Linked DNA regions of Homo sapiens. The protein of the gene in region 1 interacts with the protein of each later gene in a pairwise test. Each region holds a gene or a part of one and is shown on either strand. Other genes may lie near its edges. The genes, in order: CRY1, NPAS2 and CLOCK.

Evidence for each region.
Region 2: the proteins of CRY1 (region 1) and NPAS2 interact in a two-hybrid assay, tested with the Homo sapiens proteins (one study listed by BioGRID).
Region 3: the proteins of CRY1 (region 1) and CLOCK interact in a two-hybrid assay, tested with the Homo sapiens proteins (one study listed by BioGRID).

What each region holds. Positions count from the first base shown.
Region 1 is NC_000012.12:107,086,801-107,090,553, forward strand, and holds part of CRY1 (cryptochrome-1), read right to left. Parts: intron 1-3,753.
Region 2 is NC_000002.12:100,962,986-100,966,738, reverse strand, and holds part of NPAS2 (neuronal PAS domain-containing protein 2), read right to left. Parts: intron 2,682-3,753; coding exon 2,563-2,681; intron 1,879-2,562; coding exon 1,796-1,878; intron 1,080-1,795; coding exon 973-1,079; intron 1-972. UniProt on the Homo sapiens protein: Transcriptional activator which forms a core component of the circadian clock.
Region 3 is NC_000004.12:55,456,308-55,460,060, forward strand, and holds part of CLOCK (circadian locomoter output cycles protein kaput), read right to left. Parts: intron 2,955-3,753; coding exon 2,841-2,954; intron 2,704-2,840; coding exon 2,585-2,703; intron 1-2,584. UniProt on the Homo sapiens protein: Transcriptional activator which forms a core component of the circadian clock.

The DNA.
Region 1 (3,753 bases):
ACAGAGAGATTCTACTAGGCTGGTGCCAAGGGGAAATATGGGGTTACAGTCCCCACAGAGAACTCACTGTAGAGCAGCGGGAACAGGGGCACTGCCCTCCAGGACCCACAGTGGTGGCAGTCTAACTAAAGCCAAGAGAAGAAGAGAAAGGTGTGGTCAAATGTGTTAAATACTGTTAAGAAAAAGAAAAAGAAAGAAACAAAGAAAGAAAGAAAAAGAAAGAAAGGAAAAGAAAAGAGAAAAGAAAAAAAGAAAAGGAAAAGAAAAGTCAGGGAGTGGAAAGATTAAAAGTATCCTTTGGATGTAAACAGCATACACCCTCAGCCTGGAAAAGTGACAGACATTAGACTCCAATCCATGAGAGCAGCCATGTGGGCTATGCCCAACCAAGCCATAGAGATGCAGCTGCCCAAGGTTTTGAGAGCTCACCTCTTGGACCAGTGTGCTCAGGATGTGGGAGGGAGTGGAAAGTGAGGAAGTGGAAAGATTAAAAGAATCCTTTGGATGAAAACAGCACACACCCTCAGCCTGGAGAAGTGACAGACATTAGACTCCAATCCATGAAAGAAGCCATGTGGTCTGTGCCCAACCAAGCCATAGAGATGGGGCTGCCCAAGGCTTCAAGAGCCCACCTCTTGGACCAGTGTGCTCAGTTATGGGACAAGAGTCAAGCGAGATTATTTTACAGCTTTAAGATTTAATGTCTGCCCTTGTAGGTTTCAGACTTGGGTGGGTCCCTTTTTGTTGGTCAATTTGTCCCTTTTAAAATGAAAATATTTACCCAATGTCTGTTCCACCATTGTATCTTAAAAGTAGATAACTTGTTTTTGATCTTACAGGTTCATAGCTATAAGGAATCTGCCTTGAGTCTCGGATAAGATTTTAGACTTTGAGTTGATGTTGAAACTAGTTAAGATTTCTGGGGACTTTGAAAGAGATGATTATATCTTACAATAGAAAAAAGAGGGTGGGCATGGTGGCTTACACCTATAATCCCAGCACTTTCAGAGGCTGAGGCAGGAGAATTGCTTTAGCCCGGGAGTATGAGACAGCTTAGTGAGATCTCACCTCTACAAGTAATAAAAAAAATTACCTGGCCATGGTAATGCATGCCTGTGGTCCCAGCTACTTGGGAGGCTGAGGTGGGACAACTGCTTGAGCCCAGGTGGTTGAGGCTACAGTGAGCCATGATCACGCCTCTGCACTCCAGCCTGGGCAACAGAGTGATACCCCGTCTCAAAAATAAAAATAAAAATAATAAATAAATAAGACAAGATATTTGGGGGGCTAGAAGTGGAGTGATATAGTTTAGATATTTGTCCTTTTCAAATCTCATGTTAAAATGTTATCCCCAATGTTGGAGGTGAGAGGTGTTTGGAACATGAGATAAGATCCCTCATGAATGGCTTGGTGCTATCACGTAATGAGTGACTTCTCACTCTATTAATTAACAGAACAATTAATTATTAAAAAGAGACTGGTATCCCTCCCCTCTCTCTCTCGCCATGTGATATGTCAGCTCCACTTCCCCTTCCATCATGATTAAAAGCTTTCTGAGGTCCTCACCAGAACCAGAGGCTGAAGCCATGCTTCTAGTAAAGCCTGCAAAACTATGAACCAAGTAAACCTCTTTTCTTTATAAATTACCCACCCTCAGGTATCCCTTTATAATAACACAAACAGACTAAGGGAGTGCTCTTATAAAAAGGGCTGCAGGAACTTGTTTACCCCTTCTGCCATGTGAGGAGACAGAGAAAGCATCGTCTATTCAGCAGAGACACTGAATCTGCTGGTGCCTTGATTCTGGACATCTTCCAAAACTGTGAGAAATAAATTCCTGTTGTTTATAAACTACCTAGTCTAAAGGTATTTTGTTATAGCAGCTCAAACAAACTATTAATAAAACAATACTAACATTCACAAATGAGGGCAGCAAATGCTAAGAGTGATGTGAGGAGCAACAGCAAAAAGTGGTGCAAGAGTTCAGAATACTGCTAATCATCCCAGACAAGCACAGAGTTGTACAATCATCCATCACCTTCTAGAACAGTTTCATCATCTCAAAAAGAAACCTTGTGCCCCTTAGCTATCACCTCCCAACTCCCTAGCTTCCCCAGTCCTAAGGAGCCACTAGTCTGCTTCCTCTCTCTATACATTTGCCCACTGTGGACATTCCATATAAACAGAATCATATAACACATGGAATTTTGTGACTGGCTTCTTTCGTTTAGTTTGTTTTTAAGGTTCATTCATACATGTAGCGTATATCAGTACTTCATTCCTTTTTATGGCCAAATAATATTCCATTATATGGATATACCATATTTTGTTTACCCATTCATCAACTGATGGCCATTTGGGTTGTTCCCACCTTTTGGCTATTATGAATAATGCTTCTGTGAATGTTAGTGTATAAGTTTTTGTATAGGATAATTTTTCTAAGAGATGCAAATTTTCATAAAGCTTGTAAATTTACCCAAATCAAAAACATGTTATTCTGAGACAATGTCCTTCAAATTTTTTGTTGTTGTTGTTTGTTTGTTTGTTTTTTAAGAGATAGGGTCTCTCTGTGTACCCAGGCTGGAGTGCAGTAGCCCATTCATAGCTCATTGCAGCTTCCAACTCCTGGGCTCAAGTGATTCTCCTGCCTCAGCCTCCTGAGTAGCTGGGATTGCAGGCATGAGACATTGAGCTCTGCCAAACTTTTTTTTTTTAAATATAAAACATCCTTTTTAAATGAAAGGATGGCAATATCAAAAAGTGGTTTTGTTAATGTGCTTATTAGGTAGAATACTATTTAAAATTTTGCTTTTCTGTTAAATCCAAAAGTCTAAAAAGTGTTGACCGAAGAAAATACAAGATAGCTTCTAAAGAAAACTAAGAGGGTTTTCCCCCTGGAGTTGAAATCACATATTGTAAACAGCAGAAAATGAAATACATAAGCCAAAAGGTAGATCTTGCCAGGCTAAGGAATTTGGGCATTATCCCATAGTCAATAAGTAAATTAATAAAGCTGTTTAAATATAAAATTATTGACTCCAAGATATCACTATATTCAACAAACAATAATTGAGCTACTACTATATAAAAAGCACTGAATTTGGTACTATGAGTGATTCCAAAAAGACTTTTGCCTCTGACACTACCAAAACCACTCCAGATAAAATTCCAAATGACCTAAAATTGCTAAATCCAATTTTTATTTTTCAGTTCTCCTCTTGACCTATCGGTAGCATCTGACGTAAGTAAAACACTCTTCCTTGAAATATTTTCCTTCTTTCTTTTTTTTCTTTTTCTTTTTTTTTTTGAGACAGAGTCTGGCTCTGTTGCCCAGGCTGGAGTGCAGTGGCACGATCTCGCCTCACTGCAACCTCTGCCTCCTGGGTTCAATCGATTCTCCTGCCTCAGCCTCCTCGAGTAGCTGGGATTACAGGCATGTGCCATACGCCTATCTAATTTTTTTGTGTTTTTTACTAGAGACGGGGTTTTGCCATATTGGCCAGGCTGGTCTCAAACTCCGGGCCTCAAGTGATCTGCCTGCCTCAGCCTCCCAAAGTGCTGGGATTACATGCCTGACCAAAATACTTTCTTTACTTGGCTTCTAAGACACCATACTCTTCTGGGTTTTCTTCTTACATTACTAGTGGCTCCTTCGCAGTCTCATATGCTGGTTCTTTCACAGCTCCACAATTTATAAACATTAAGAGTATTCAAGGTTCAGCCCTTGCACCATTTGCATCTCTTGTCTATCTC
Region 2 (3,753 bases), on another chromosome or scaffold:
GCCTGTAATCCCAACTACTCTAGAGGCTGAGGTGGGAGAATTGCTTGAACCCAGAAGGTGAAGCTTGCAGTGAGCCGAGATTGCGCCACTGCACTCCAGCCTGGGTGACAGAGCGAGAATCTGTCTGTCTCAAAAAAAAAAAAAAAAAAAAAAGTTCTAATGGGTACTACAGGTGAGGCATCTTTTAAAGCACAATGTTAGTGGTCGATTCATGCATTAGGATCAATAGGTCAGTGTTCCTATTTCAAGTTAAGAGTTGGCACTGAAAATACAGCTGTAAGTGGTTAATTCTTGAAACCACTTGCTAAGTGAGAACTCGGACAAGCTTGTAATTCTCACTCCCCCACATCGTAAGTCCCATCCCCCATACATTTGCTAATGTGTTCGCCTCGTATGTGGCAAAGAGCCTTCCCTGAACCCCAGCTGTGAGGGTCCTCTTGAGTCCCCCAGTATGCTGTGTACATCCCCTTCAATGCACCGACCACATCCCACAAAGTCACCCATTTCTGGCTTTCCCAGAAGACCTGCCCTGCGGGACAGCAAGTAGGTACTGATCATCCCCATATGCCAGCCTACTCAGTATCTGGCCTATGGTTAGTGACCAATACTTATCTGCTGATGAAAGAACAGTTATGAGAATTCGGTATTTTATCTCTGAAATGTATTGCATAACTTAAAAAAAAAAATCCCTGCATCACCTTAATTTCTTAATTAGGTTTAAACAGGGCGCCTATCTGGATGACAGTGGGAAGGTGCTAGGGTTTGGGGCCAAGTGAATTCCAGTGACATGGGGGTAGACGCGGATAAGGGGCCTCCACCATGCCCCCAGATCATCTCAGAGAAAACCAAGTTCCTCACCTTAAAAAGAAACCAGGTAACGAGCAGAGGCTTCTGGAGTCCCAGAGCCCTGCTGCTGGGCCCCAGTGGAGTGAACGCAAGGCCCCCATGCCTGGGCTGGGCAGTGGTACTCACGGTGCTGGTGACACCTGGCCAGGAGCTCCAGGTCATCAATGTGGTAGTAGTCATAGCCTGAGGTTCCCAGCACTTCAAAAGGCAGGTATCCTATGATTGGAGGTGCTCTGCACAAGGACAAGGAGGACTTGTCATCAGGGAGGAGACACCCTGCAGGGCTCACCCTGGTGGCCATGCCTTTCCATAATGATCAACATGGAGGCCTCATTTCTCAAGAACAAGGGGAGAAAAATAACTTTGTAATGGTCAAAATCAGAGAGGCTGTGTTTTCCAAAGGGCTCAGCTTTTTTTTTTGGCATATAGATACTCCTTTCCCTTGGCATAACTTGGCCCAAATAACAATAAGCTTTATCACTACTGGGTAATTAAAAACAGCTACAAATTGGATCAGCCCAACACCAAAGTGTAATATAAATTAAAGGGTGGGGAGGGGAGATTTGGAGTTCTTCAACTGCAAATAATGTTACAAAAGAAACAGTAAAGATTGGGCTAAAAGATCAAAGGATGTTGAAAAAAATGAGATGAGAGATTTCTCTCACACTTGCTGCTGCCTTACTGGGAGCCGGGAAGGGCCTCAAGTGAGGATCATCCCAAAGATGGCCCGGGGCTGAGCCATCAGACCCAAACACAGAACATATTCACGATGGGGCAGATGAAGTTGGAGGGAAACCACCCACCCTTGGCAGGGACGACTTTTCCTAGTGCCAGAGAGTCCTCCTCTTTCAATGGACCAGGGCCGACTCTTCTCTCCCAAGGAGAGCCTGGCTCACGCAAACAAGACTTGAGAAGGGCCCAACCCAAATATGTTTTTCTTTTCTCAAACCTGTGATCCAGAAATAAAAATTTCCATTCCAAGCTATGCCTTGAAGTGAATTCCTCTAAAGGTTCGTCAACTATGCACATTTCCTGTATTGGAAGCAGAAAAAAAAAAAAAGTTGCTTGGGTGCCAGATGCTCACCCTAGGTTTGTTCAAGAGGAACGCGTGGTGGGTAACAGAAGTTAAAATCATTTCGAGCAAGTCTCCAAGTCGTGTTGGACTGAAACTCATCATCTGTAGCTAATTTCGGTATTAGCTGATACTAAATTTATTTCACAAGCTAGGGAAAAATACCTAGGAGCCAGAATGTCACACCATCCCTTCCCATTATCGAGAAGTGGCAAACATGTGGAAAATGGCTTTTCATCGGAATCTGAATTACTCATTTAACTCAACATTCATGCCATCGATGTTGAAGCAATCACAGATGAGAGAAGGCAGACAAACCCCCAGCGCTCCAACACTCGGTTCTCACCCAGGCCTGGCCTGCATGGTATTAACGCCGGTGTGAAAGGTGGGAAGATTTACAGTTATCAGACAGCACTTCTGCGGGCTGAACAGCAAGCGATGCTGCCTTCAAAGAGAACCACTTGCAGGAAACGGGGCAGGGGAAAGGGCGTGTGTGCAGGCACAGAAGCCAGACACTTCGATTTTCAAAGCCAGTGACAACTTCACTGCAATTTATTCCCTCCCAAAAGACCATTAATTACATATAACAAAATGTGAGTCAATCATAACAGCTCCGCACAATGAACTGCCTCTCAGGTACTTGCCTTTAAGAATTGTGGTGTTGCCAGACGAACGGTGGCAATGAAGCAAACCTCCTTTCCTAGTGGCACCCGGCAAGGTCTTGAAAGGGTGTTGTCAAAACCATTACAGGAGGGGCTAGGCACTGGGGGGTTGGGAAGAAGAGGACACATAGGTTAGCCCTGTCTGGTGACAGCAGCCAATCCCTAGTTGGCACTTAACTGTAAGCCAAGCGCTGCCCCCAGGGTTTATGTAGAGTATATTAACTCATTTCATTTTCACAACTGGATGAGGTAGGTCAACTATTATTCCCATTGCAAAAAGAGGAAACCGAGGAACAGAGGGAAGTAACTTGTGCAAGACCAAAAAGCTTGCTAGAGCTGGGATTTGAGCCCATGCTGGTCACCAGCATTCAGCACTGCCTCTCACTTCCACTAGCCCTATGGCTTATAATGCTGGGAAAAATAGTCTACAAAATGAGAACACAGGCCAGGCACAGTGGCTCACGCCTGTAATCCCAGCACTTTGGGAGGCTGAGGCGGGAAGATCACTTGAGGCCAGAAGTTCGAGACCACCATGGCCAACACTGTGAAACCCCATCTCTACTAAAAAACAAACAAACAAACAAAAACAAAAATTAGCTGGGCATGGTGGTGTGTGCCTGTAATCCCAACTGCTTGGGAGGCTGAGAATCACTTGAACCTGGGAGGCGGAGGTTGCAATGAGCCAAGTTAGCACCACTGCACTCCAGCCTGGGTGACACAGTAAGACTCTGTCTCCAAACAAAACAAAACAAAACAAAACAAAACAAACAAAAAAAAGAGAAGACAGCCTCATTCTGCAGTAACGGTTTGAATACTCCAGCCAGTGTTTTAAGGTGAATTCTATAATCAGTGTTCCTGATACTGATGGTCCCAGGGAAAGTAGGGGTGTCTCGGCATCATTGACACCCCCTTCCCTGCCCCTGTCTTGGCTGGCATACCTGGGGTTCAAGGGCCTCTGTCCTGAAACTCCCCCTTGGGAGCCCAGGCTGATACAGGGGTTGGGTCTGGGCCACTGAGGAGACAGGGCTCAGGATTTAGGGGTCACCCCCAGAGGAACACAACGCCTACAACAAAACTTGCTAGTTCCCTAGTGTGGCCCAGGTGACAAAATCTGCTCTCACGCATCTTCTTACATCTTCTCAAACATCTAGGAGGGCATTACTGTCCTAGGCC
Region 3 (3,753 bases), on another chromosome or scaffold:
TAAATAATTAAAATTTATAAATACTTTGTGTCCTTAAGAATATTAAATATTGCTACATATAAAAATAAGTCATGGCCAGGTGCAGTGGCTCACACCTGTAATCCCAGCACTTTGGGAGGCTGAGGTGGGCAAATCACTTAGGTCAGGAGTTTGAGACCAGCCTGGCCAACATGGTGAAACCCGATTTCTACTAAAAATACAAAAAATAGCAGGGCACGGTGGCGGGCACCTGTAATCCCAGCTATTCGGCAGGCTGAGGCAGCAGGATCACTTGAACCCAGGAGGTGGAGGTTAAATAAATACATAAATAAATAGTCATTACTAGATAAACTTTTCCTAAACAAGTTAGTTGTTTCTATGTATGTATATATTTACCTATTTCTTTGTTTGACACAGGGTCTCACTCTGTCACTCAGCCTGAAGTACAGTGGTGTGATCTCAGTTCACTGCAGCCTCAACATCCTAGGCTCAAGCGATCCTCCTGCCTCAGCTTCCCAAGTAGCTGGGACTATAGGGATGCACCACCACGCCCGGCTAATTTTTGTATTTTTATTTGTAGAGGTGGGGGGTCTATGTTGTCTAGGCTGGTCTTCAACTCCTGGGCTCAAGCAACCTGCCCACCACAGCCTCCCAAAGTGCTGGGATTCTAGGCATAAGCCAAAATGCAGGCCCTTCTAAACAAGTTAATATATTTTAATTTTCCAGTACTAAAGAATGTGGTAATAAATAACCTTTAGATGCAAGCTTTTGGGTGGGTACTTCTCACTCTACACATTTTCCATTCACACATGCCTATAAACGCTTATTCAAAATTCAGACCTCTCTCCTGAATTACAGTTCCATATTTCCAAATATCTGAATGTCCTCATACATCTCAAATTCAATATGTCCTAAAATAAACTAACTGCTTTACTCCTCACACCCAATCACACAATTTTCCGTATTATTCTATACATGTGTAGTGGCCAGTGTCTAGAAATCTGATAGTTAAAAAAACATACTCTTTCATTTTTACCTTTCATCATCTAAGTGGCCATTACTAAATCTTTTCCATTTCATCTAAGTATTTTAAAAATCAATTCTATCTCATCCATCTTGAGTGCATTGGTTTAGACCCCTGCCATCACTGATTTGCTACAGTGTTCACCAGTCTCCCTGTCCTTCAACTCATCTTCTCTTCTAGGGCCACAATTACCTTACCAATACTCAAATATTATATGACTTCCCTGCTAAAAAACCTTCAGTGGTTCCTTGTGCTAAACTCTCTTCAGCATGGAGAAATAAACAAGAAAGAAACAAATTTTATTTCTGGTTTCTGATTACTTTTCTAGCCTTACCTCCCACTATCTCTTCCCCCTCCACACACTAACCCTAGACTCTAGTCATACTAAACAATGTATTCCATCCTGCCTCTGTGTCCCTGAATGACCTGCAGCACTCTGTAATAGTTGAGAGCTTGGGCTTTGAGAAAAAAACAATTATTAATTAATAGAATCAAGTCCCAGTTTCATCACTAATAGCTGAGACTTTGGGCAAGTCACTTAACTTCCCTAAGCCTGTTTCCTTATAATGTAAAATGAGGGATCGTAATGGCATCTAACTTATAGGGTTGTCATAAGAATTAATGAGATAATGCATATAAAATACACAGCATGTAGTAAGCACTCAAATGTTAACAACTATTATTTCATAAGATCAAAACAAACCAAGCAAGACTGGCTTAAGATCTTCTATTAATTCAGTACTTTGTCCTATACTATGATGTCCCCCCAAATTTATTTGAGACAGAGTCAGACTCTGTCTCAAAATAAAATGCAAACACAGTTCACTGCAGCCTCGACCTCCTGGGCTCAAATGATCCTCCTGCCTCAGCCTCCTGAGTAACTGAGACCACAGGTGTGTAACACCATGCCTGGCTAATTTTTTGTATTTTTTGTAGAGATGGGGTCTTGTCACGTTGCCCAGGCTGGTCTCAAACTACTGGGCTCAGGCAATCCTCTCGCCTTGCTCTCCCAAAGTGCTGGGATTACAGGCATGAGTCACCTCGCCTGGCCCCGCCGAAATTTTAAATCTTAGCCTGGCTGCCTCTTTCCAGTCAGTTTCTAGTGGTTAACTCTTTCACTTTCCCACTTCCCTACTTGTCATCTGTTTGTTGGGTCCAGGAAATAAAAATAAAATACCTAATTTTACATTTGAAAAGGTAAGTTATATGTGGCAAAGAGCCACTTGTACATTTCAAATAAAAATTTAAAAGTTACCTTCTAAAAATAAAGATTCCAAAAACCTAGATTTTTGGACTTTCCCTTTTAATAGAGATAATGAACAACACACAAAAGGATCCTAAAATCTTCCACAAAAGTAGGGCAATATTGATATATAATAATCACTGGTTAACTGCAAAGGATATATACTAAAAAATTAGTTATACAATTTAATGAGTGTCTTGATAACTCATCGTTTCAAAAATATTATCATGCATATTTAATGACTCATAGCCATTCCACCTCAATGTCTGCAGGAAGTTTCAGGCAGCTCTCAGCATATGAACTGAAATCCCCTTTGGGAAATAAAATTAAAAACATACCTTGATGAACTGAGGTGTAGCTAACCTGACAGTAGCTACAAAACAAACTCTATCTTCATAAGATGGCCTATGTGTGCGTTGTATAGTTCCTTCAAAACCATTGTGTGCTGAAGAGGATACTAAAACAATAGGGAAATATGTATCATCAGTTATGCCAGCAAAACCTAATTGTCACTGATATTCAAACATCTATGTCTTTAAGAGCACAGAAAAATAACAAGTTAAAACACATTGTGAGAGAAGCATTTTAACTCACCACTGTTTAAAGATTTGAAATTTCCTATAAATTTTACATATTCATAGGTAGATGGCTCCTTTGGGTCTATTGTTCCTCGCAGCATGTGACAACAGAATTCTAACTGATTTTTTGCTGAAATAAAAGAGATTTTAAAAATCACATATTTCTGATATAAAACAATGATTGATATACCACATAAAGTAAGATCATAAAAGTTGTGTAAGTTTACAACCATTATTTTCCCCAACAGAAGTCGTCAATGACATTTAGTTCATAAAAGTAGAGCACCTTCAGGAGAGGATCTCACTTTGTCTTTAATAGAAAAAATAGATTTTCTGGTGCAAACAACTTAATGTTTCCCTATTTTTAGCTACTCATCCTTTTCATTCTTTACTCACTTTCAAAGGAAAGTTTTGCTTCACATTCTAAAGCTAATCCTTCCATCTCTACCATTTATAGTCTTTCCTATTTTCTCTAGGACCCGGGCCACATCACTGTTCCTTATTCCTTTAGCATCTACACCTTTGGGTCCTTACTTTCTTCTTTTTTTTGAGACAGGGTCTTGATTTGTCACCCAGGCTGGAGTGCAGTGGCATGATCACTGCTCACTGTGGCATTGAACTCCTGGGCTCAAGTGAGCCCCCTGCCTCAGCCTCCCAAGTACGCAAGACTACAGGTGTGAGCCACCATGCCTGGCTAATTTTTAATTTTTTATAGAAATGGGGTCTCACTATGTTGCCCAGGCTGGTTGCAAGCTTCTAGGCTCAAGCAATCCTCCTGCCTCAAAGTGGAGGGATTATAGGCGAGAGCCACTGCACCTGGCCAAGGGTCCTTACTATCTACTTTTAAATTTGCTCACGTCTTCCATCTGAAATAAAGGAGTTTCACTAATTATTTGGTATTATAGATCTCCTTCCTTTTCATTATGGGC